7 linked regions of the Homo sapiens genome follow. The protein of the gene in region 2 purifies or fractionates together with the protein of the main gene of each other region. This does not show direct contact. Each region holds a gene or a part of one and is shown on either strand. Other genes may lie near its edges. The genes, in order: ITIH2, ITGA8, SUSD5, NUS1, DHRS7, OSTM1 and DSC3.

Evidence for each region.
Region 1: the proteins of ITGA8 (region 2) and ITIH2 purify together in Homo sapiens (affinity purification with mass spectrometry; one large-scale study listed by BioGRID and IntAct). This does not show direct contact.
Region 3: the proteins of ITGA8 (region 2) and SUSD5 purify together in Homo sapiens (affinity purification with mass spectrometry; one large-scale study listed by BioGRID and IntAct). This does not show direct contact.
Region 4: the proteins of ITGA8 (region 2) and NUS1 purify together in Homo sapiens (affinity purification with mass spectrometry; one large-scale study listed by BioGRID and IntAct). This does not show direct contact.
Region 5: the proteins of ITGA8 (region 2) and DHRS7 purify together in Homo sapiens (affinity purification with mass spectrometry; one large-scale study listed by BioGRID and IntAct). This does not show direct contact.
Region 6: the proteins of ITGA8 (region 2) and OSTM1 fractionate together in Homo sapiens (co-fractionation; one large-scale study listed by BioGRID). This does not show direct contact.
Region 7: the proteins of ITGA8 (region 2) and DSC3 purify together in Homo sapiens (affinity purification with mass spectrometry; one large-scale study listed by BioGRID and IntAct). This does not show direct contact.

The regions. Positions count from the first base shown.
Region 1 is NC_000010.11:7,727,316-7,730,815, reverse strand, and holds part of ITIH2 (inter-alpha-trypsin inhibitor heavy chain H2 precursor), read right to left. Parts: intron 3,114-3,500; coding exon 2,988-3,113; intron 865-2,987; coding exon 683-864; intron 1-682. UniProt on the Homo sapiens protein: May act as a carrier of hyaluronan in serum or as a binding protein between hyaluronan and other matrix protein, including those on cell surfaces in tissues to regulate the localization, synthesis and degradation of hyaluronan which are essential to cells undergoing biological processes.
Region 2 is NC_000010.11:15,604,923-15,608,422, forward strand, and holds part of ITGA8 (integrin alpha-8 isoform 1 preproprotein), read right to left. Parts: intron 3,369-3,500; coding exon 3,313-3,368; intron 2,910-3,312; coding exon 2,755-2,909; intron 1,501-2,754; coding exon 1,363-1,500; intron 870-1,362; coding exon 802-869; intron 1-801. UniProt on the Homo sapiens protein: Integrin alpha-8/beta-1 functions in the genesis of kidney and probably of other organs by regulating the recruitment of mesenchymal cells into epithelial structures.
Region 3 is NC_000003.12:33,177,311-33,180,810, forward strand, and holds part of SUSD5 (sushi domain-containing protein 5 precursor), read right to left. Parts: intron 1-3,500.
Region 4 is NC_000006.12:117,678,469-117,681,968, reverse strand, and holds part of NUS1 (dehydrodolichyl diphosphate synthase complex subunit NUS1), read right to left. Parts: intron 1-3,500. UniProt on the Homo sapiens protein: With DHDDS, forms the dehydrodolichyl diphosphate synthase (DDS) complex, an essential component of the dolichol monophosphate (Dol-P) biosynthetic machinery.
Region 5 is NC_000014.9:60,143,619-60,146,008, forward strand, and holds the end of DHRS7 (dehydrogenase/reductase SDR family member 7 isoform 1 precursor), read right to left. Parts: exon of another isoform or gene 1,396-2,390; coding exon 1,348-1,395; 3' UTR 501-1,347; downstream 1-500. UniProt on the Homo sapiens protein: NADPH-dependent oxidoreductase which catalyzes the reduction of a variety of compounds bearing carbonyl groups including steroids, retinoids and xenobiotics.
Region 6 is NC_000006.12:108,040,909-108,043,741, forward strand, and holds the end of OSTM1 (osteopetrosis-associated transmembrane protein 1 precursor), read right to left. Parts: 3' UTR 501-2,833; downstream 1-500. UniProt on the Homo sapiens protein: Required for osteoclast and melanocyte maturation and function.
Region 7 is NC_000018.10:31,039,943-31,044,242, reverse strand, and holds the start of DSC3 (desmocollin-3 isoform Dsc3a preproprotein), read left to right. Parts: upstream 1-1,500; 5' UTR 1,501-1,582; coding exon 1,583-1,651; exon of another isoform or gene 1,652-1,801; intron 1,802-2,408; exon of another isoform or gene 2,409-2,710; intron 2,711-4,300. UniProt on the Homo sapiens protein: A component of desmosome cell-cell junctions which are required for positive regulation of cellular adhesion. Required for cell-cell adhesion in the epidermis, as a result required for the maintenance of the dermal cohesion and the dermal barrier function.

The sequences.
Region 1 (3,500 bases), 7.9 Mb from region 2:
CTCTTACTTGTTCCCAAATTTAAATACGATGCCTGGTACTGACAAAGAGCAGGGAAAAACATGTTCTTTCCCTACATCATTTTCTCATCTATTTAATCAAAACAAACAAGTAGTTTGTGTCTTTTCAATATATGTATTTTAATTAAAAAAATTATCTGTTGAACAGATGGATCTCACTATGTTGCCCAAGCTGGCCTTAAACCTCTGGGCTCGAGTGATCCTCCCACCTTGGCCTCCAAAGAGCTGGGATTACAGGCATGAGCCACCACACTCAGCCTGTATCTTAATACTTAAGAAAATTTACACTGTGAAAAATTGATACCAAGATGCCAATGCACGTTAAAGAGAAAACGGTTGGCCATGATGATAAGAAGACCAATTGCTGGTGGGGCAGGAGAGCTACAAGGAGCTTTGATGACGCTCAGAAGGCCTTTTTGTTCAGGGGGTAGGACAGCTGTTCCCAACACCCATCTGCCTCATACCTCACTGTTACTGCAGAAATATGAGGGTGGGGGGAAACATGTGAGAAAGGAACTGGGCACTTCCCTGATCCTTGCAACCAAATATGGCTGAGATCATGACCATTTTGAGTTAAGTTCAGTTATGCATCATACCTGCATCAGATATGGGTAGTTAAATGATTTCCAGTGAAGAATAAAAAAAGAACAGAAGAAAATGTTACCTTAAGCTGGGAAGACGTGTCCTGGTTTCCATAAATCCTTTGTGCAATTCCATGGTTTTCATTGGACAGTCTCTTCAAAAAATCATAGTCCACATCAAATCCCATGCCCAAACTGAACAAGGAGATATTGTCTTGGATGTTCTCCTTAACGTTTTTCTGAATTTTTGACAGTTTTAGTTCGCCTAAAGTTGGTGATGTCCGAAAGGAAAGGAATGAAGAAGCAATATCATAAATTTTCTGGAAAATCCAGGGAGGGCAGTTTAGTAAAGTGTGTCCAGATTAAAACTGCATTTCCCTTTTGACCCAGTAACTCAATTTCTAGTTTTTCTTAGAGATGCACTCGTACATGTTGAAATGAAGTGTGGGTTGTGTTGCATAGCAACATTATTTGGGAATTAGCAACATATTGGAAACAACATAAATATGCACCAATGAGGGCGCTTGGTTAGATGATGATACATTTAAACCGTGAGATACTATGCAGCTATTAAAAAGGACATGGAAACTCCTTATGTATGTATACCAGACAATCTCAAGGGCATGTTTAGAGGAGAAAAAAAAAACAAGGTAAATATCAGGGTACCTAGGATGCATTTGCATGCATGCATGTATAAATGTATGTATGTGTATGTATGCATATACACATACATGTGTGCAAACATGTATATATAGTATACAGGCATGCATAAACTATTTGTGGAAAGATACACAAGAAACTGGTAACCAGTGACTGATTCCAGGGACAGGAACTGAATGGTTGAGAAACAGGAGTGAGAAACCATGATTAAACCAAATTATGGTTTAATTTTGTTTTTTTTTTTGAGACAGAGTCTCACTTTGTTGCCCAGGCTGGAGTGCAGTGGCACGATCTCAGCTCACTGCAACCTCCGCCTCCTGGGTTCAAGGGATTCTCCTGTCTCAGCCTCCCGAATAGCTGGGATTACAGGCACACGCCGCCCTGTCAGGCTAATTTTGTATTTTTAGTAGAGATGGGGTTTCACCATGTTGGCCAGGCTGGTCTTGAATTCCTGACCTCAGGTGATCCACCCACCTCAGCCTCCCAAAGTGCTGGGATTACAGGTGTGAGCCACCATGCCTGGCAAGTTTAATATTTTAAACTATATTTCCTTTTCCACCTTATGATTTCATTCAAAACTTGAATTTTGAAAATAATCTGATCTGAGGGAGAAAACATTGGCTCTACAACAAATACATAACACTGGCTCATTCTAGTCTCGTTATTAATAAGATGGTTGCTCTCTGGCTTTCTAAAGCTCTGACTGCCATTGTTTTTGCCTCGTGCATTTTCATTCTGCTTGGCTGTGTCAGGACGTGTTAGACTCGGTCCTAGTCTGTACGACAGCACACTCAGGCAACACAATCTGGCATTCGCTATTACTTACAGTGGCCAGAATAAAGACACAAGTAAAACAAAGATAGCTTGGCACAGTGGCTCACACCTGTAATCTCAACATTTTGGGAGTCCGAGGTGGGAGGACTGCTTGAGCCCAGGATTTTGAGATCAGCCTGAGCAACATAGTGAGACTTCGTCTCTCCAAAAAAAAAAAGAAAGAAAAAAAAGAAATTAGCTGAGTGTGGTGGTGCACACCTGTAGTCCCAGCTACTCAGGAGGCTGAGGTAGGAGGATCACTTGAGCATGGGAGGTTGAGGCTGCAGTGAGCTGTGTGTGCTCCACTGCACTCCCTCCTGGGTGACAGAGCAAGACCCTGTCTTCAAAAATAAATAAAATAAACTAATGTAACAAAAATAAAAATAAATAATAGAAGTAGGGAGATGTTGCTGCCCATTTTGTAGAAAGAAAAATGTTTAACTTCAAGGTTGTGTCAGAGAGCAGTCATTTCTCCAGGTGCAACCGGGAGAAGTGTGGAGAATAATAGGGAATATGCTACTGTGGCCTCCAAAGGTACTGCTGGGAGATCTGGGATCAATACTCATCATTCACCACCCCCATACACCATCTTCACATACCTCAAGTTGAGGAAATAGATGCATTTCCCTAGAATGCATCAGCAATCCTCACAACATACTATTAAAATTCAGACTCAGATTTCTGCATATTGTGGAGGTGGAACTGAGGCATTCAAGAGCGCCCTTGCTGAAAGTGTCTGAGCAGTAGCTTAAGGGGTGAGGGCTGCAGGATCAGAAGACCTCCTTTAGGAAGCATGGGTTTAAAATGTTCTAGAAACTCAGGCAAATGCCATTAGAGTTCCCCTTTTAGGCAAACCACCATTCCAAGAAACAACAGTGAAAGTGTTTGTCGTGAGAAGGTTGAAGTGACACTTGCCCACTGTTGGATCTCCATCAGAAACCAAAATGATCAGCGAGACGGAGTTGGGGTCTAACAGTCCCAAGTTATTGGCTTCATTCAAAATGAAGATTGCCCGTAGGAGTGCTTCGTTGATGTTTGTGCCTGTTGAAGTAGCATAATGAAACGTTGGGTATGCGTTCTCGCCACACGCAGAAAATCCCATTCTGGATTCAGACTCATATGTCGGCTGATCACTTATCCATCACTTATTCCATGCCAAAATCATTTCATTGCTTTCTGAGTGACACAAACTGTGCTCAAGCTGGTGGTCCCCCAGTGCAGTGAAATATTCACTTTGAAATAAACTATCCCCTTAGAGATGAACTAGCCCTTTCAAAGCACAGACTGTTAGCTTGTTAAACACCAGATTAAAGTATCCAAATCAGCCTTGCCAAGATACTCTGAAGATAGTAACATTTTATGCTTTATGCAGGCAATAAAGAAGGCCAGTGTCACTGAACCTTTTTCTGAGAGACATTAAAACGGTTC
Region 2 (3,500 bases):
TGCAGTTCACTTAGAACTGCAAATCAAGCCAATAGTTGGAAATGCCTACTCCACTTTTTAACCTTACTTAAAGCGATTGCATTTGAAGTTGATAAATTATGAAATTTGGGGGAAGTCCCTCTGAGAAGTTACCAAGCAGATTCCAAACACTGGCAGTGAGATAGTTCCTGGGAGGGAAAGAAACACAAATCTGTTTCTTGACCACAGAATGTTTTACATCCTAGTCCATGTCTTCCCATAACAGAATACAGTGCAATTTCCAGTGCTGGAATGGGGGCGTCCATTACTGGCAACTGTGAAGCCCTTTGATTCGTTTCAATTTTGTGACACCTTCTGCTTTACTCCATAGAGTGCTATTTAGGTTTATTTATTCAATAAGTTAAAATTAATTTTGTTTTGACAGTTTTAAGGATGGCTTTGAGTCATGGGGTGCTGAAAAAAAGTTTGGTTGAAGGTGTAGATGGAACCTGCCTGTCTGAATCCTTTGTCTACTTGACTGAGGCAAGTAAACATAACCCGAGCCACCCCATCAATGAGTTTACTTTCAACAAAAACATTTTTTTCCCCACTTTTGCTGAAAGATGAAACGACCCAGGCAAAATCTTAGGGTGTGTCATTTGACACCAATGACAAATAACTGACCCAAACCACAGGCTAACCCAAAGTGTAGCCAAGCTCAAGAATTTCACGCAGCATAGTTTTTGGTAGTTATTGGAAGTGTATACTTTCTCCAGAGAACCTTTACATAAATACCTGTAATTCCATTAGATAGAAAGTACACATTTAGTTATTTAAACTTACGGTCTAGCCGACAGCTTCAAGTCAGGAACACACAGATTGTCTTCTCCACAGTCCACCAGAATGTGAGCCTGTGTTGTATAAACGCACGTCAGGAACAATCTAGGAAAATCTGATTCACATCCTTTTTCTTGAAAATTCTGAATGGTGCCACAAACGGAACCAGAGCTTTCCTCTCACTATGCATGACTCTACCCAAGCCAATAGCCTACATTTCACAGTGACCTCCCAATACAGGCTACTTTACATAATAGCCCAATTCCAATGCACTCTGAAATATCTGCAAAGAATGCAACTCTGCCTATGGCTTGAGGATTACAGGCTGTATTGCTTCCATTACAGCCACATTTTGAACAAATTAAATCTTGATTGCACAAGAGGAAAGGCTTCCGAAAAACACAATCATGCAGTGTTTCAGGAAACATGGTAGGAAAACTCCCAAATGTTCCATGTCTGCATGCAGAAGTAAAAATGAAAGGAGCTGGCTTTAGTCTTAAAGCCATGAGAACAACACCCCAGAGAGCTTGCTTGAGAAAATGCCGTCAAAGACTGTGAAGGACTTACCTGTTCACTAACAATGTTTTCTCTGTAGTAGTTCAATATTGGTTTCACTTCCAGGCCTTCTTTAAAGGTGGATTCGTCCAAACTGTAATTCAAACTAATGTTGATTGGAGATAATTTATCTCGGAATTCAGTTTCATCCTAGGAAAAATAATCACAAACTCAACAGAGGCTCCATGAAATAGCTGCAAGATGTCAGTCTGCAAAAGTCAGGCAACACTGGAATTTACTCAATGAAAGTGAATGATGAAACAATTATCTTTGCAGCAGGCTTAGATGGAGGCTGATTTATGTGGTATATAGTAGCCAGCATACCTAATATATGTGCAGTGATGAAATCATTTAGAGCTGCGGCTTCATTGAAATACGCTTCTGGAGCCAATCTTTGGGTTCTCCAGACCTTCAACAACTCATGCAGAACTGGTCAAGTTGCAAAGTAAAAGATTACACGTGTATATCATAAATGTCACAAAAAACATCATGAATTTGGATTTTTATTTTCGTGAGGTTGCCAGAATTTATGAGTTCTCTCTTGGGGCTCAGAAGAAGAAAACATCTTGATTCTCTTCCTCTCATCATCTTTTTAAGCCCTTGCCTGCATGAACTTCAGAACACCTTCAGGATATTTGAAGTTCTTTTGGAAAAAGAAACAGAACTCCTTTAGTAGAGAGGGGTAAGCACCAAACAGCAAGCACTAAACACACGGTGGATATGTCACCCTTCAATTGTTTGCCAATCAAGGGTCAGGTATCCAACTTTTCATTCTTGAGTGTGATTGTGAACCTGTGATCTTCCCTAGGGTGGTCCTTGCTAACTAAGTCCCCTAATGGAAAAGAGAAATTGAGACAGTTATCACAACCTCACAACCGGCAAGGTGAAGATAGGTAATTGTGTTATAAATATTTTTACTTTAAAATTTCGGTAGGTTTTGAAGTCATTGTAAAAAGACATTACTTTAAATAAGATAATTATAAGTTACTTCTAATAAAAGCTTTGAATGCCTAAATATTTTCCTGAATTGGCTCTGAAACATGCATTGATAAAATCTAACAAGACATACTCACATAGGAGAAAAATTCACATAAACTGTGTTGCACTTTTATGTATTTTGGGGAGGAGGTGGGTAGAAATGAAAACCATGTGAGCTGAATGCCATTATAAAGATTTTGATCAAAATGAAAAGAAGCCTTAGAAATTAATAGCAACACATCATCAGGTTAGTTGAAGTCAGGGTCAAGAGGAGAGTATTTGACCCTAAAATAAAGTTTCCTGCTATGAAAATGAAAACAGACAGATGGGGGTCTATGCAGACAAACATGATGGTTAAATGGAGAAAAATGGTTGGAATTTGGATATGAAGGAGAGAGGCCAGAGAAGTCTTTCTGGAATACTTACTCGAAGGTAAACGATGAAATCCTGGCACTGGTGGGATTTCTGCCTTTTTATCACAAGAGGGAAGACGCGATGAGCCTGATGGTTATCAAGGAAGAGCGTCCGTTTAATAGCTCCTTTCTGTTTCAGGGAATCTAATTGCACCTCTGCCATCAAGACTAAAGGACAGAAGTAAAGTAGAGAAAAAGTATTCAGTGAACACAGTGCTCTATCAGAGAGATGAATTTCTATTTCAAGTTGCTTATTCAGGAAACAGTTCTTTTTCATAGTTGAGACCAAGCATGATAAATGAGCTGGAAAAATTGTATAACATACTCTCCAAGCTACAAATGTTTTATAATGGTTTTATAAAAGTTGTCATTTTCCCTACAATTATATGTTCTTATAAATAATAGTATTACCAAGTATTGAAGTAATATTTATTAGAAGGTTCCATATATGCAACAGATATCTTGGTATTCCTCAAGGGTTCTTTCATTTTTTTATGGTCTGTGCAGAGAAATGGTTACTGTTCAACTTTCTTAGTATACCATAAGAATGTAAAAATGAAAACATGCTTACCTATTGTGTTTGCAATGCTCTGGCCTGTGACAGATGCACATACTCTTAAAGAAAAGCTATAGAAAATAGTAGTAATTTATTGGTTAATAAAGTTTTGAATCTAAAGTAGAAGCCTTCCTTTACCTAATCCCAGATAACGAATATCATTTTCTCTATATATTTCTAATTACACACACACACACACACAC
Region 3 (3,500 bases), on a different chromosome or scaffold from region 2:
TGGGAAAAACTGACATCTTCACAATCCATGAACATAGACTATTTCTCCATTTATTTAGTTCTTCTTTGATATATTTCATCAGAGTTTTACAGTATTCTTCATCTAGATCTACAGATCTTGTACGTAATTTGTTAGATTTATACCTAAGAATTTCATTTTTCCTTGGGGTGCTAATATAAATGGTAACATGGTGTTTTTTGGCTTTTTTGTTTTTTTGAGATAGGGTCTCACTCTGTCGCCCAGGCTGGAGTGCAGTGGTGGGATCATGGCTCTCTGCAGCCTTGACCTCTTGGGTTTAAGTGATCCTCCCACCTCGGCCTTCCAAAGTCTTGGGATTATAGGCATGAGCCACTGCACACAACTGGTAATGTGTTTTTAATTTAAAATTTCACTATTTAATTGCTGGTCCACAGGAAAGTGATTAACTTTTGTACGTTAACCTTGTATCCTGCAATCCTGCTATAATTGCTTTTTTTAAAAAAATTATACTTTAAGTTCTGGGATACATGTGCAGAACGTGCGGGTTTGTTACTATAACTGCTTATTAGTTCCAGCTTTTTGTTGTTGTTGATTCTTTCAGATTTTGTACATAGACAATCATGTTATCTGCAGACAAAGACAGTTTCAGTTGTTCCTTCGCAATCTATATTTTCTTTTCTTATTTTATTGTATTAGCTAGGATTTCCAGTACAATGCTGAAAAGCAGTGGTGAAAAGAGACATCTTGCCTTGTTTCTGATCTTAGTAAGAAAGCTTCAAATTTCTACCCTTAATCATGATGTTAGCTGTAGGTTTTTTTGTTTTGTTTTTGTTTTTGTTTTTAGATGTTTTCTATTGAGTTGAAGAAGTTCCCCTCTATTCCTGGTTTGTTAGGAGTTTTTATCATGAATGGGTGTTGGATTTTGTCAAATGCCTTTTCTGCATCTATCAATATAATTATGTGATTTTTCTTCCATAACCTCTTGATGTGATGGACCATATTAATTTTGAAGACTAGCCTTGCACACCTGGGATAAATCCCACTTGGTTTTGGTGTACAAATCTTTGTATACATTGTTGAATTTTGTTTGCTAATATTTTGTTGAAGATAATTGCATCTATGTTCATGAGATACATTGGTCTGTAGTTTTTTTTTTGTTGTTGTTTTGTTTTTTTTTGAGACGGAGTCTTGCTGTCGCCCAGGTTGGAGTGCAGTGGCGTGATTTTGGCTCACTGCAGGCTCCGCCTCCCGGGATCATGCCATTTTCCTGCCTCAGCCTCCCGAGTAGCTGGGACTACAGGTGCCCACCACCACGCCCGGCTAATTTTTTGTATTTTTAGTAGAGACAGGGTTTCACCGTGTTAGCCAGGATGGTCTCAATCTCGTGACCTGCCAGCCTCGGCCTCCCAAAGTGCTGGGATTACAGGCGTGAGCCACCGCGCCTGGCCCGGTCTGTAGTCTTTTTTGTAATGTCTTTGTTTGGTTTTGGTGTTAGGGTAATACTAGCCTCATAGAATGGCTTAGAAAGTATTCCTTCTGCTAACTTCTGGAAAAGATTGTAGAAAATTGGCATAATTTCTGCCACTAGTGAACCCTCTGGGCTTGATGCTTTCTTTGGAAGGTTGTAGAGGATTGGCATAATTTCTGCCTTAAATGTTTGGCAGAATCCACTAGTGAACCCTCTGGGCTTGGTGCTTTCTTTGGAAGGTTGTAGAGAATTGGCATAATGTCTGCCTTAAATGTTTGGCAGAATCCACTAGTGAACGCTCTGGGCTTGTGCTTTCTTTGGAAGGTAATTAGTTATTGATTCAATTTATTTATTTATTTAATAGCTATAGGCCTGTTCAGATTGCCCATTTCTTCTCTACAATGGGACAATTTAATGTAGGTTATCAAATTTGTAGGCATAGAGTTGTTCATAATATTCCTTTATTATCCTTTTAATGTCCATAGGATCTGTAGTGATGTCCCCTCTTTTTTTTAAAAGCATAACCAATTGTTTAATCAGTTTTATGTGACCTATGAGCCTTCAGAAATCAATACCCGAAGAACCAGGGAAAACTGTTGATTTTTATGTTTAGATTCAAAGAAGAATGGACAGCTGTGTAGAAATGTGATTGGACAAAAGGGGTATGATCTAATGGTAATATACTAAAGGGGGAAACCCAGCAAGGTTTGTTTGTTGAGCTTCTTGTTGGCCTCTCTGTGTAGCATTATTTTCTCCTAGATATAGGCAGAACCTCTCTGGAATATAGGTCTTATGACCTATTACCAAACAAGGTAGGTCAAGTTATTTCTTTCAGGCTGGGTGCTACACAGAAAGGTGGGAGAAGGCTATAATAGTATTTCCAAGTTTTACGGCTTGCTTTGGGGTTTCATTTTCAATATTAGTAATTTGCATCTTCTCTCATAGTCTGGCTAGAGGCTTATCCATTTTATTGCTCTTTTCAAAAAACCAACATTTTTTTCCATTGATTTTATGTTTGTAATTTTACTGATTTCTACTCTAATTTTTATTACAGTCATGTGCCACATAACAACATTTTGGTCAAGGAGGAACTGAATATATGATGGTAGTCTCGTAAGATTATAATGGAGCTGAAAAATTTTTATCACCTAGTGATGTAGCCATTGTAAAATCATAGAGCAATGTATTATTTATGTGTTTGTGGTGATGCTGGTGTAAACAAACCTGTTGCACTGCCAACTGTATAAAAGTATAGCACATACAATTATGTACAGTACAAAATACTCAATAATGATACTAAATGACTATGTTACTGGTTTATATATTTACCATACTATACTTTAATCATTATTTTAGAGTGTACTACTACTTATTTTTAAAAAGTTAACTAAAGCAGCCTCAGGCAGGTCCTTCAAGAGATATTCCAGAGAAGGCATTGTTATAATAGGAGATGACAGCTCCATGTGTCTTACTGCCCCTGAAGACTTTCTACTGGGACAAGACGTGAAGGTGTCAAACAGTGATATTGGTGATCCTAACCCTGTGTAAGCCTAGGCTAATGTGCATGTTTGTGTCTTAGTTTTTAACAATAAAGTTTAAAAAGTTAAAAAAAAATTTTTTTGAGACATGGTCTTGCTCTGTCACTCACGTTGGAGTGCAGTGGCATGATCATGGCTCACTGTAATCTTGAACTCCTGGGCTCAAGTGATCCTCTTGCCCCAGTTTCCTGAATAGCTGGGACTATAGGCACATGCATCTGTGCCCAGCTAATTAAAAAAATTTTTTTTGGCCAGGTGCAGTGGCTCATGCCTGTAATCCCAACACTTTGGAAGGCTGAAGCAGATGGATCACTTAAGGTGAGGAGTCAAAGACCAGCCTGGCCAACATGGTGAAACCCTAAAATTACTTTTTATACTAAAAATACAAAAAAAAATTATCCAGGCGTGGTGGTGCATGCCTGTAATCTCAGTTACTCGGGAGGCTGAGGCAGGAGAATAGCTTGAACCCAGGAGGCAGAGGTTGCAATGAGTCGAGGTTGTGCCACTGCTCTCCA
Region 4 (3,500 bases), on a different chromosome or scaffold from region 2:
CCCAGTTACTCAGGAGGCTGAGGCAGGAGAATAGCTTGAACCCCGGAGGCAGAGGTCGCAGTGAGCCGAGATCGCACCACTGCACTCCAGCCTGGGCGACAGAGCCAGACTCCATGTCAAAAAAGAAAAGAATCAACAGTCTTTTGACAGGTAGCTAGCCCTTTGCCAGAAAAAGGTGAAGAGGACATTTCAGGATGTTAAGATAAATGTGAAACTGTACAAAAAGTCAACTACACAAAGGTAGAGATTAAGAATAGAATGCTCCCTTACATGAGTTTCCACATGAGGGAAGATAAACACTAGGTTGTACTATTCAGTATGTCAAATGTAATCACATTTATATTTAGACTTTCAACATTTCCGGCACCTCTGTATTTCAACATAAGGAGAATAAACTTAAGAAAATCATACTTCTCAATAGCATCTGTGTCACTGTGCCAACTAAGTAAACTAGGGTAAACTATGTTCATTTTCCTCCATTACTTTAAGGCTTCTGGGTATTGTGTTGGGAAGCAGAGAGTGCAACTCAGTTCATTATTCTTATCTACAGGAAATGCGGCCCTTCTTTGAATTCAAGGAACACATATTAACTATTCATTACATGCATAACACCAAGATACACTCTGTAAGAAAAGCAAAAATGAGAAGGATGGATAGCATCTGTGGAGCTTATAATCTAGTAAGAAAGTTTATGCACATATACATACAAATATGACTACACAAAGCAGAGAACAGAAGTACCTTTAGAGATGTTTGAAGTTCTGAGGAGATTCAGAGATATAGTAAGATAGGGAACGGAGTGAATAGTCAAGAAAGGCAAAAATATACAAGGTGATATTTAGGATTGACTCGGAAAAGATGAACAATAGCCTCTTGGTAGGCATACAGCCATTTGCCAGAAAAAGGAGAAGAGGGAGTTCCAGGAAACTGGAACATTAAATACCTAAATACAGACATAGCAAAAGGTATGCAAAGCATTGAGAAACAGGTTGAAAAGATAGGATACACTGGGCAGACTTTTAAAATGTTACTGTGAGAAACCTGTACCCAAAAACCATTTCAAAAGCAACCTAGCTTCGATTTAAATAAACTAAGGAAATAGCACTAGAAAGAGCAGCACACAAAAAAAATTTGTTGTCTTACTGTTGAATTCTCACACAGAAGGCAATGCCTTATTCTGGATCATTCCAATTTACAGCAAATAATCCTAAGGCTTACCCCAAATTATCCTCAATCATGAAAAGGAACATGAAATATAAATAATCTAATGTAAGGCAAGTAGCAGAGTATCCTTTGATCTGTGTTAGGGTTAAACTTCAGTGTGCAGAAGTATCATACAGGTAGCTTGATAAAAACAGAGACGCCCAGGTCCCAGTTCCCTCATTAAGTTTGATTACTAAGTGTGTTGAATCTGCATTTTTTATAAGCATCCCCAATGACTAATTCACAGATGGTCCACAGACAGGTTTTGAAAAATACCAATCAACAGCAAGGTTCCCAGCAAGGCACAATAAAGCCAGGAAATAAGAACAAGTTCCATCACTTAAGATAACAATACATATCCAGATAACTTGGAGCCAAGTGTACCTGCATGTGAGACACAGGCAAACAACACTGCTAAGGCTAGAACAATAAAATCCATTTACCCCAACCCCTGGTTCTTGTACCATCCCAGTTATGGTCATTTCTTAAATTATAATCATATAGACAGAACAGCCAAATCTCGCTAGAATTCTGAACTCAAAAAATTCCTGATCACTGTCCTGAGAGAACAACCTGAATTTTTGAAAGATGAAAGAATTACTTGCAGACTCTATTATAATCAAGAAATATTGCAGGTAGTGAAAAACAAAAAGATCAGTTTGCTGGCAGTCAAATTAAGGTCAATATAATAGATCTTTTAGTCTAAGGATTAAATGTTGTTATCTAGATCCAACCATAATTAGAACGAATTTAAGTACAAATTTGAGAGCAAAGGGGTGTAGGACAGAATAAAATGTAAGGTGGTAAGCTTGTCTTCAAAGTGGCTGCCCGTCCATCTCCCTTCAAATCCTCACCCAACCTTTCTACACAAGCCATTTTCTCATTGAGAGGTGAAGTCCATTTCTCCACTTTCTTGATGCAGAACAGATGTGAGACTTCTCTGACCAAGAGAACATAGCAAAAATAACACTGCATGATTTCCTAGGTTAGGTCCTAAGACATCTTTCAGCTTCAGCCTTTGGCCAAGTCTCTGGAAACATTTGTTCTGGGGGAAGTTAGTTAACTGGTTACCCTGAAGTCAACCTCCAGACCATGTGAAGCCAGATGACCAACCTGCCCCATCTATTTCAGCCATCAAAAACCAGGCACCAGACATAAGGAGAAACCTTTGGGTCCCAGACTCTATCTGAATGAAAGCTATGAGTGACCCAAAGGAAAAACTGCCCAACTGAACTAAGTCAATATATAAATTGTTGTTTTAAAACACTATGCTTTGGGTAGATTTCTACAAAGCAGTAGGTAACCAGAATAGCTGTCCAAGCCTTCATCCTACCTCATTTCCCAACTGTTCATTACATAAATTCACTGCTCCCAACACTCTACTCAATGCTATTACTGAACCTAGTCTAATGAGAATGCTGCCATTAGGGAAATCCCCATTCACACACACAGAGAACACTGTTCACGCCAATCCCAATTCTATCTTTTTGACTAGGTCCAGCTCAGGTGTTGCTCCCTTCCTTACCAGACAAATATGGAGGTAACCCGGGAAATTTTCCATTTTTCGCTCCTTAAAGTATCTGCCATTCACTTAGCATTTCTATATTAGCTTGTGTTAATTTTTAATGGACATCCTTACTTGAGTGGAAACTCTTTAAGAGACACCATTTCTTGTACTTCTTGTATCCCAGTGGCATTTACGAGTATGTCAATAGGATTTTTCATAGTTAAATATCTATCTAGAAATAAGCTTAAATAGACATTTATTTAGAAACACTGAATATGGCCGGGCGCAGTGGCTCACACCTGTAATCCCAGCACTTTGGGAGGCTGAGGCAGGCAGATCACCTGAGGTCAGGAGTTTGAGACCAGCCTGGCCAATATGGCAAAACCCTGTCTCTACTGAAAATACAAAAATTAGCAGGGCGGGGTGGCGCGCATCACCTGTAGTCCCAGCTACTTGGGGAGGCTGAGACAGGAGAACTTGAATCTGGGAGACGGAGGTTGCAGTGAGCCTAGATTACACCACTGCACTCCAGCCTGGGTGACAGAGCGAGACTCCGTCTCAAAAAAAAAAAAAAAAAAAAACCACTGAAAAAGAAACACTAAATAAAGCTTACATGTCTATACTCCCTCTGAGTGATTCTTACATATCCACATGGCCTATATTTTCAAGTCTATATTCAAAGAGCCTCTCCTTGGCCTCCCTATTTAAAACTGTACCCCTTCCTACACCACTGACTTTCAACATTCCTATCTTCCCTTCTCTGCTTTACTTTTCCTCATTGCACTTACAT
Region 5 (2,390 bases), on a different chromosome or scaffold from region 2:
TACATATCCATGTTGTTATGTATGCATTTATTCCATTGCTTCTACCCGCTATACCTCATCGTGTACCTCTACCACATGTCATCTTCCCCCTTTTCCAAGGACAGCCACTTGGGTGGCTTCCAACTTGCCCAACAACTATTCTACAGTTATTTTATGTATGTTACTTTGGCTCCAGCTCAATTGTGAACTGCTTGTAGATAAGGACCATGTTTTTCTTTACCTGTTACTCCTGCTGATTTCCTATTAGTGCCTGTGCATGTTTTCTGCTGTAAGGTGTTAAATGTTAAAGTAAAATTAATAATAGTAGAAGTAAGGAGTTGCCAGTGGAATCTTCCTGAGCTGAATCTAATCATGGCTTTACCCCTTACTAGCTTTGTGACCTTGACCTTGGAAAAGTAAAACCTTGTTGGTCTTTCTTCATCTATCAAGGTAGGTAATACCATCTATCTTAGTGGGCTGTTATGAGGAATGAGTTAATTAACTAATACTAAGCACTCCAGTACAGTAGAAGACATACAACAGGTGTTTAATGAATAATAGGTGCAATGAATCCTACCTGCTGCTTCAAATTACAGCCATCTGTACCTGTCAACTTTTCTAAGAGTATAAGCATCTTGGAGGTAAGGTCATTTCAAATACTTCTTTATATCTGGTCATTACCCAGCACTCTGCTTTGTGTGAAATATTCTATACATTTATGTTGCTATGGTTTGGATGTTTTTGTCCCCTCCAAAATTCATGTCGAAACTTAATCCCCAAAGCAACAGTATTAAAGGATGTGGCCTTTAAGAGGTGACTGAGTAATGAATGAGATTAAATGCTCTTTTGAAAGCATTTTGCTCCTCTTTCCCTTCTGTCCCTTCCACCATGTGAGGACATACATTCCTCCACTGTGGAGGATGCAGCAATGAGGTGCCATCTTGGAAGCAGAGATCAGCCTTCACCAGACACTAATTCTGCTGGTGCATTGGTCTTGGAATTCCCAGCCTCAAGAGCCAGGAAAAACAGATTTCTGTTGTTTATAAATTACCAAATCTGTGGTATTTTGTTATAGCAGCACAAATGGACTAAGACAAATCTGTTAACTTAGATTTTAAGCATATGTGCTAAAGTATTTTAAAAGGTTATTTTATCCAAGAATATAGTATGAGTTAATACCTTTTTTGCAAGATTCATGGCAATCTTTTATTATTTATTTTTTATTTCATTCCATGTTGGAAGCAAAGTCATATCTATTAAAAAGTAAAATCACAAATTAGTCTTTGATTATTCAGAAGCATAAGAAGATTGCTGTTTTCATGTTTTCCATTTCTCCCTCCAGTGGCTTGAAAAGTACAGGTGCTCTTTTCAGTCATGTTTTGTCTTAAAGATTTTAAAATAAGAAGAGTCTGCATCCTGTAAAAGAGGGACAGAAACATGGATCAGTACCTACTCCTATTTACTCCAGTTTTTAACATTTAAGTCCTTCTGTTTTGAGGAGCTGTATCATTATGATTCACTATTAAGAATCTTTACAAAAGTTCAGAAACTGCTTAAATTAGAATTTAAAAATCATAGCCAAAATTCTAGATGTACACAAAAGTACTTCTAATGAGTTTAGCATCATCTCTGGTTTAGAGGAGGTATAAATAGCATTGGACTGCAATGCTAAATTCTCTATAATGACTTTTCTGGATCAGCATATCATACCTACACTGACTTGCCCTAATAAATAAAAACAATGAGTCAGATTATGTAGAATTGAGATATATGGAAGATAACTCTTTAAAATTATTTGTGGCCAGGCAGGCACTGTGGCTCATGCCTGTAATCCCAGCACTTTGGGAGGCCGAGGTGGGCAGATCACCTGAGGTCAGGAGTTAGAGACCAGCCTGGCAAAACCCCATCTCTACTAAAAATACAAAAATTAGCTGGGTGTGGTGGTGTGCACCTGTAATCCCAGCTACCCGGGAGGCTGAGGCAAGAGAATTGCTTGAATCCAGGAGGCGGAGGTTGCAGTGAGCTGAGACTGCGCCATTGCACTCCAGCCTGGCCAACAAGAGGGAAACTCTGTCTCAAAAAAAATAAAAAGAAAAAAAAATTATTTGTGAACTTTTTGTATATTGCTTAAGGAATAAAACAAGGCAACCTGATAATCCCCAAGATGTGATGTTTCTTTTCAGAAGATATGCATTTACCACTTTCAAAACTTTGCACTAAGAAAGACAAAATAATAATAATGATAATACAAAATTCAGTGTAGCCACTGTTCTTGATCCCTAAAAATAATAAAGATTCATAAAAACAAAGTTCCAGACATACAGACTAAAGAAGCAAATTCTAGTTAACAAGTACTATTAGCTTGAAATAAGCTATGCTAGCATTTTCTTAACTTAGACGCTTATCAATAA
Region 6 (2,833 bases), on a different chromosome or scaffold from region 2:
GCCTCAGCCTCCCAAAGTGTTGGGATTACAGGCAGGAGTCACTGCACCCAGCATCATTCATTTTAAAGCTCTGAAATCTTTTGATTGCATTGGGGTACTGAGATGGATTTTTTTTTTTTTTTTTTGAGACAGGGTCTTGTTCTGTCACTCAGGCTGGAGTACAGTGGCACAATCTTGGCTCACTGCAACCTCTGCCTCCTAGACTCAAGCGATCCTCCCACCTCAGCCTCCTGAGTAGCTGGGACTACAGGTACACACCATGATGCTCAGCTAGTTTTTTAATTTCTTGTAGAGACAAGGTCTCACTATATTGCCCAGGCTGGTGTCAAACTCACGGGCTCAAGTGATCCTCCCGCTTCAGCCTCCCAAAGTGCTGGGATTACAGGTACCAGTCACCACACCCAGCAGATTTTAAAAAATACCTGTTTATCACAAGAAAAACATATTTAAAAAATCATCATTGCAAAGCTCCACACTGTAAGAAGCATGGATCAGTCAAATTATCTTTTAAAAGCCCTCTTTAATTCCAAGGAGATAAAGAAAGTTATTTGTCATTAAACATGTTACATGTATGACTAATATTTATTATAGCTAATATAATAGTTTAGAACAAGGAAATTTAGTAGAGTTGTAACATTTTGGTGCTACATGTATAATTCAGCATAAGCCAAAGCCTTTTTAAAATAACCAATACTATCATTTTATGAAATCTTTACAAGATAAGCACAGTAGTACAATATTTAAGCATCTCAAGTCTCCATTTAAGAGTTGACTATCAAAGAATGACTGTTATAAATAAAGAGCTCTATGATGTTCCACTTATTTAGTCTTAATAAGGTAGGGAAATAAGTGACATACTTTTTAGAAGAATCCATGCAGTGGACAGAAAGTCAGATTAGGTAGTCCCTAGGGATCCATCCAGCTCTGGGAATCTATCATCAGATGGCCTCTAAGGTTTCTTCTAGCTCAGAAAATAGAGGTACTTGGAACATAATTTTTTAAATTTTAAATGGTTATATAGGTTAATAGTATTTTTTGCTTTTCAAAATTCATTGCTGGTGATGTCTATTACTTATTTGATGTCATGTCTTTGGCCAGGAATGCAATCCTAATTAGCATTGTTCCAGGAAAACATTTCATTTTATAGGGAGCATATCCCAGAAACATTAGAAAATACTAGTCCCAATATAAGTAACATTTACCAACTAGACTCTGGGCTACACTTTAAAATATCTGATGTTCAGCCAGGTGTGGTGCTTATGCTTGTAATCCCAGCACTTTGGGAGGCTAAGGCAGGAGGATCTCTTGAACTCAGGAGTTCAAGACCAGCTTGGGCAACATAGTGAGACACTGTCTCTACAAAAAAAAAAAAAAAAAAAATTAATTATAAAAAAAAAAGAAAAAATATATCTGATGTTATTTCTATCTCTCAAGTTCAACAATAAATAATCCAAAGTACATTTTTATTTGCAGCAAAATTTAAGACAGACAGTACTTTCTTTTTTCTTTTTTTTTTTTTTTTTTTGAGACAAGGTCTGGCTCTGTCGCCCAGGTTGGAATGCAGTGGTACAATCTTGGCTCATTGCAACCTCCACCTCCCGGGCTCAAGACATCCTCCCATCTCAGCCTCCCAAGTAGCTAGGACTACAGGCACTTACCACCATACCCAGCTAATTTTTGTATTTTTTGCAGAGACAGTGTTTCACTATGTTGTCCAGGCTGGTCTCGAACTCATAAGCTCCAGCGATCTGCTTCAGCCTCCCAAAGTGCTGCAAATACAGGTATGAGACACTGTGTCCAGCTGATGGTACTCATAAAAGTAGGCATCTAAACTCAATACCTGAAAAACAAATGTGATGTTAAATTACATCTGAAATTTTAAAAATGTATTTAAAAATCCAAATAAAGCTTACAATTTCCTTATTTCCTTTATTTTAATGTGTCAAAAAAACACTTAAAGATATTCTTGTAAATACATATAAGCTGTGTGTCAACATTCAGTACTATGCAAATCATTTTTCAATATGACAAAATGAAAAACTTACACACTTTAGGGTAGCGCTTAATACTTATCTTTGAAATCTATTGCTGATGCTAGGTCTAAAGAGCAATGACTCAACCAGAAAAAATAGTAAAGGCTGCCTTTTCCTTTTTAAAGTGCTTATTAGCTTTATATCCAAAAACAATGGTTTTTACAAATACATAATACTGAAAGGTGCTCAAAAAGTCACCACTTACAGAATTGAACATGTCATTTTCTAACTCTGCACATGTAAACTTGTTTTATCTGCATTAATGAAGATTGCTTCAAATGGCTCTCAATCATATGCTTCAAATCAAGACAGTGCTAAGTTCCAGCAGCATAAACAGTGACAGCAGAACAAACCCCAGCACATTTTCAGTGGATCACAGCAGATCAGAGAAAGTGTAACAGCTTTTGAGTATGTTATACATCCAAGAGCCTTATATTTCACTCCACATAAACAGTAAACATAAAAGAAAAAAGAAACACTTTGTCTCCCTATAGAGCATTTTATAGTATAGGAAGGGATTCAAATTCTCTTTTTAACAAAATTCTTGTTTCTATATAGAGGAGATTTTATATTCTTAATGTTTACAACAAAGCCTATTTCCACCAAAAAAGCAAGAAGAAATTAATAAATGAAATCCTGAACTCTAAAAACCTAAGAAATAAAACTGTGAACAATTCTGAAACGGAGTGTTTTTTCTAAAGGCTAATACAAACATACCAAAATAGAATTTCTGAGCACGAACTATGTGATTTCATTTCAATCGTATCACTTTCATCTGATTGAAATAATTTAGAAACAAT
Region 7 (4,300 bases), on a different chromosome or scaffold from region 2:
ACTTTGAGAAGCTTTCTCTGAGGTCATGCTGGAGGCACGTGGAGGATGGGAGGTGAAAACCCTGGAGTGGAGAGAAGTTTGGAGAACTTTCTCTGAGACTGGAAGAGCTCTTACATACAGAGACCTCCACTGACGGGTGCCTGGGAGATTCACACTGGGAAGCTCAACTTAGAGTGTCTGAGCCCTTAAAGCTGAGCCTCATGAGTTTCAGGGAAGCCCCAGACTTCAGGGAATACATGGCTTAGACGACGAGGAGTCTATTAGACTTGAGCCAGAGTGAGATGAATGAAGGTCATAACACCCTTTCATGATTAATTGGCTGTCTGAAATTCCCGACCTTGCAACTTTTGAATGGACTTCGAGGAGTAGCATCTCATGTCTGAGAGGGATTTCCTCCTGAATCCAGTAGATGGGAACTCGGGGAACTTAAAATTCAGTTTAGGGAGAAATAAGAGGATGTCCCCCTGGTGTTACAAACGACATCTCTATTAAAAAGTGTAGCCTACTGGGCTAGGAATGATTGTCTTTCGTCCCTTTCTGACTTTGAATTATTTCCGACAGGAACTAGATTTTCTGCATTTCCTTTCTTCCATGCCCTCACACAAAGCTTGGCCGACTTCGGGCCCTGATAAATAGTCGTTGCATGATGTAGAATCTGTAAGCCTCGTTTTAGAAGGTTTTGTGTGGTAGATATTCCTTTGACCACCTGAAAAATTTCATTTTGGTACCAGTAAGTAGTAAACCAATAATTCACATCTAAGAACAAAGTCGTTTTTAGAAGGTTCATATGAGTCCCCCAAACTGACAGTTAATAGAGCGCTGAGTGTAATCACTCATATTTTGGGTGCGTAAAAATGGTTAGATTAGAATTTCTTAAATTTGGTTTTAATTTCTGACATGCCAAAAACTGTTTATCATGCCATCTGGGATAAATTCCTTCTGTCGTGTATTTTGTCATGTTAGTCAAATCCGGAGAGAATACAGTACATGTATTTTGCTTTAATCTGAAAACATTGGCAGAATTTGTTCAGACGTCGAAGGGGAGATCCGCTGATCCAATGACAAGGGTGTTCCTGGCATCCAGCAGAGCCCGTGTCGAGGCAGGGATCCCTGCGGGCGGATTGGGGTTCTGCATTGAGATGCACCGCGCAGCGCCGGCGATGGGGCCGCCCTGGGACGATCTGGGCTGCCAGGGCCTCTCTGCGGGCCGGGCGGGGCGGCAGCGCCGCGGGGCAGCCGAGGGGCGTGGGAGAACTGGCAGAGGGTGCGCCAGAGACCGCTTTCCCGAGCGCGAACGCCCGGGTGGCTGCTGGGGAGCAGAGGGGCAGGCTCGGGCAGCTCCTCAGCCGCGCCGGCGATGATAAAACTTGAGAAATAACAAGGAGTGGCCTCTCCGCGTCCTCTGGGTCCAATCCGGTTTCAGAAGTGAAGTTGCTCCCGGGCAGGCAAGCCTGAGAGAGGCCAAATACACTTAAAAACAAGCAGCGGCGAGAAAAGCACCTCCCGCGCCCTGCACCTCGGCAGGTCTCGCTCTCGGCACCCTCCCGGCGCCCGCGTTCTCCTGGCCCTGCCCGGCATCCCGATGGCCGCCGCTGGGCCCCGGCGCTCCGTGCGCGGAGCCGTCTGCCTGCATCTGCTGCTGACCCTCGTGGTAAGCCAGATCTCGCCGGATAGGGCTGGGGTGGGGACGGGGGTGGATCCGCCCTGGACGCTGCACGGAGCTGGGGACAAAGCGGGCCGAAACGTGACAACCGCGGCTCAGATCAATGCTGCGGGTCTGGTAGCAGCCCCAAGTTCGGGCCTGCAGGAGTGAGGAGAGAAAACGTGTGTTTGCGGGTCGACTCTGGACTGAGCTTTTTGTTTTGAGACAAGGTGTTCGATTGTTGGAATTCTGAGTCGCGCTCAGGCTTCGCTGCGCTCTGGCGGGCGCCGTCGCGGGTTGGGCAGGGGGTTGGGATTCACGCTTCTCCCCAGGTGGTGGAGCTGGTGGTGATGGTGGTTGGAGGGCGCCTTTGGGTGGAGAGGATCCCTGAGAGCTCAAAGCACAGACTTGAAAAGGGATTTAGGGGCTGCCCCCTCCCCAGCTCTGGGTCGCAGTTGACCCGGATTGGTTCGTTAGTGAGTGGAGCCGGGGCTGTGTCCCTGGGTCCCTTGGTGGGGCTGCCCCTGAGAAGTGGGTTTCTCGGTATCTCCCCTAAAGGGTATTCAGAAGCTCACCCAAGCGGTCCACCCCCGCCAGCCACCCAGCTGGGGGCGGGATGTGCCGGGGGCGCGAAAGTGTGGGAAGACCGGGCCAGAATGGGGGTTGGGGTCGTGTTGTGTTTTGGGGATGCTGCCGAGGTGTGGAGGCGGGTAGAGGGTGACAGTGGTGGGGGATGATGGATGCGGTGGGGTTGCGTCGTACTTACTCCGGCTCCGGGGAGGACTGCGCGGCCGGAGCACAGCCTGGGGTTTCGAGTCTACGGAAACCTGCCGCCCAGGACGAAATCCTCTAGGAGAGGAAGTTAGAGACGATGCTCTGAGAACACGGGAGACTTGAAGTGTTCGGAACTCTGGCGGCGCGGTTACACGCGAAGCTTCAGGCTTCAACAGAGTTTCATTCCGCACGCCCAGAAAGGAGCCGCGGACCCGCGACTTACCCGCATCCATGGATGCGCATGGGGTCCGATGGGAGCGAGGTCTATACCCGCGTCGGCAGTGAGCCGAGTCTGGTCTCGCGGATTCTTACTGCTTCCTGGCCCTCCACCCTGGCAAGTGGGAGTGGGTCCAAGGGTTGTCCTCCCTTAAGGTCAGCGAGGTATGAATATGGGATTGGTAGTTATGATCTACGATATGTTTATGGAGAAGGAATTGGACAAATAAGCGCATCCATTTGCCCGGGAACTGTTCCAACAAAGTATCTGAGCTTATGAAGTGACTACAAATGGAAACGGCTTAGAGAATGTGTTCTTTTGTAATATATTTAAAAGCATTTTCAGCTTTTCAGTTTACAAGCATGCATTTGGGGTTTTGTGTTTCCTTTGCGAAGGGATTGAGGATGGGGAACGAAACTACGGGTGCTGCTCTCAGAATTTCTCGCATTCGCTCGAGGCTCCCAGAGGCCATGGAAGACCAGGAGCTTTCCCGGCAAGGCATGGGTGGGGGTGTCGAGCTGTGGCAAGGAAGAAGGTGCGCGTAAATCTAAACGGAGGAAGCTTCAGCTTTGATCTAGCACATACTCGTTTAAGATTTTTTTTTTTTAAAATAATTCCGTTGAGTTTAGGTTAAATGCTGTATCTGGAGACTTAAATACCGGAAAGTGCACAGAAAATGACTATTTCATCTGCAATTGTCAGTTTACAAACACTTGCAATTTCGGACCGGATGGGTAAATTAACACTTCTCTTGACCATCTCATGTATGTATTTCCTTCCTTTTGACTCATACGACTCTCAACTTTTCAATATAATATTAATGACACGGCATTTTAGAAACATTTTTCATTTTATAGAGACTTTAATGGATATCTTTAAACCATTACTTATCTTTAAAACATTGTTTGTTCTAAGGAGACAGCTTTTCAAAGCAAGTCTTTAACAAGAATCTGAGACTTGTTAAATTTTAGTCTTCCCAGTAAGCAGCCCAACAGGTTGAGGGAATTTTCCCATTCTGCATTTTTCCTGTATCTCCTTCCCACCGTGTGCCCCACCACACTCTGAAGTGTAAATACAGTTTCTAATAATCACACGCACAAAGAAAAAAATGACAGGGAGATACTAAAAAAAGAAGTATATCAGAGCATCTCACTCACTATTGTAAGTTTTTGATTGCCTCAGAAAGTGTTTTTTCCTCTTAATGTAACCAGAATTGTTAGGGATGGTGGAAACTAATTTACATGAGATCAGTTGTCTTCTGCCTGTTACAAATAATAAGATTCTTTTAAAAATATGTGTTAATACTGTTATCAAATCCACTTTAAGATTATGTTATCTAGTATACATTATAAATGGCACATACTTGGACACGGCTAATCCATCATTTTGTTAAAAGGGCTCCTCTTCTAAAGGAACTAAAATAGTTGAAACGTTTGCAATAACTCCCCTCAAATCTGTACTTTTCCTCTTTGGAGTATATGAACTCTGCCTGCAACCTATGTTGATAAATAGGCATCCAAATTTTTATATTTGTTAGGGTTAATGTGAATAATGTGAGTCCTTACCAGAAAAACTTGTGATGTTTTTGCTCTTGGTAATATTTGATATATTCATCATTTTAAATTAAAAGGGAGTATAGTAATTTCTAAAGGCTTTTACATTTGTGA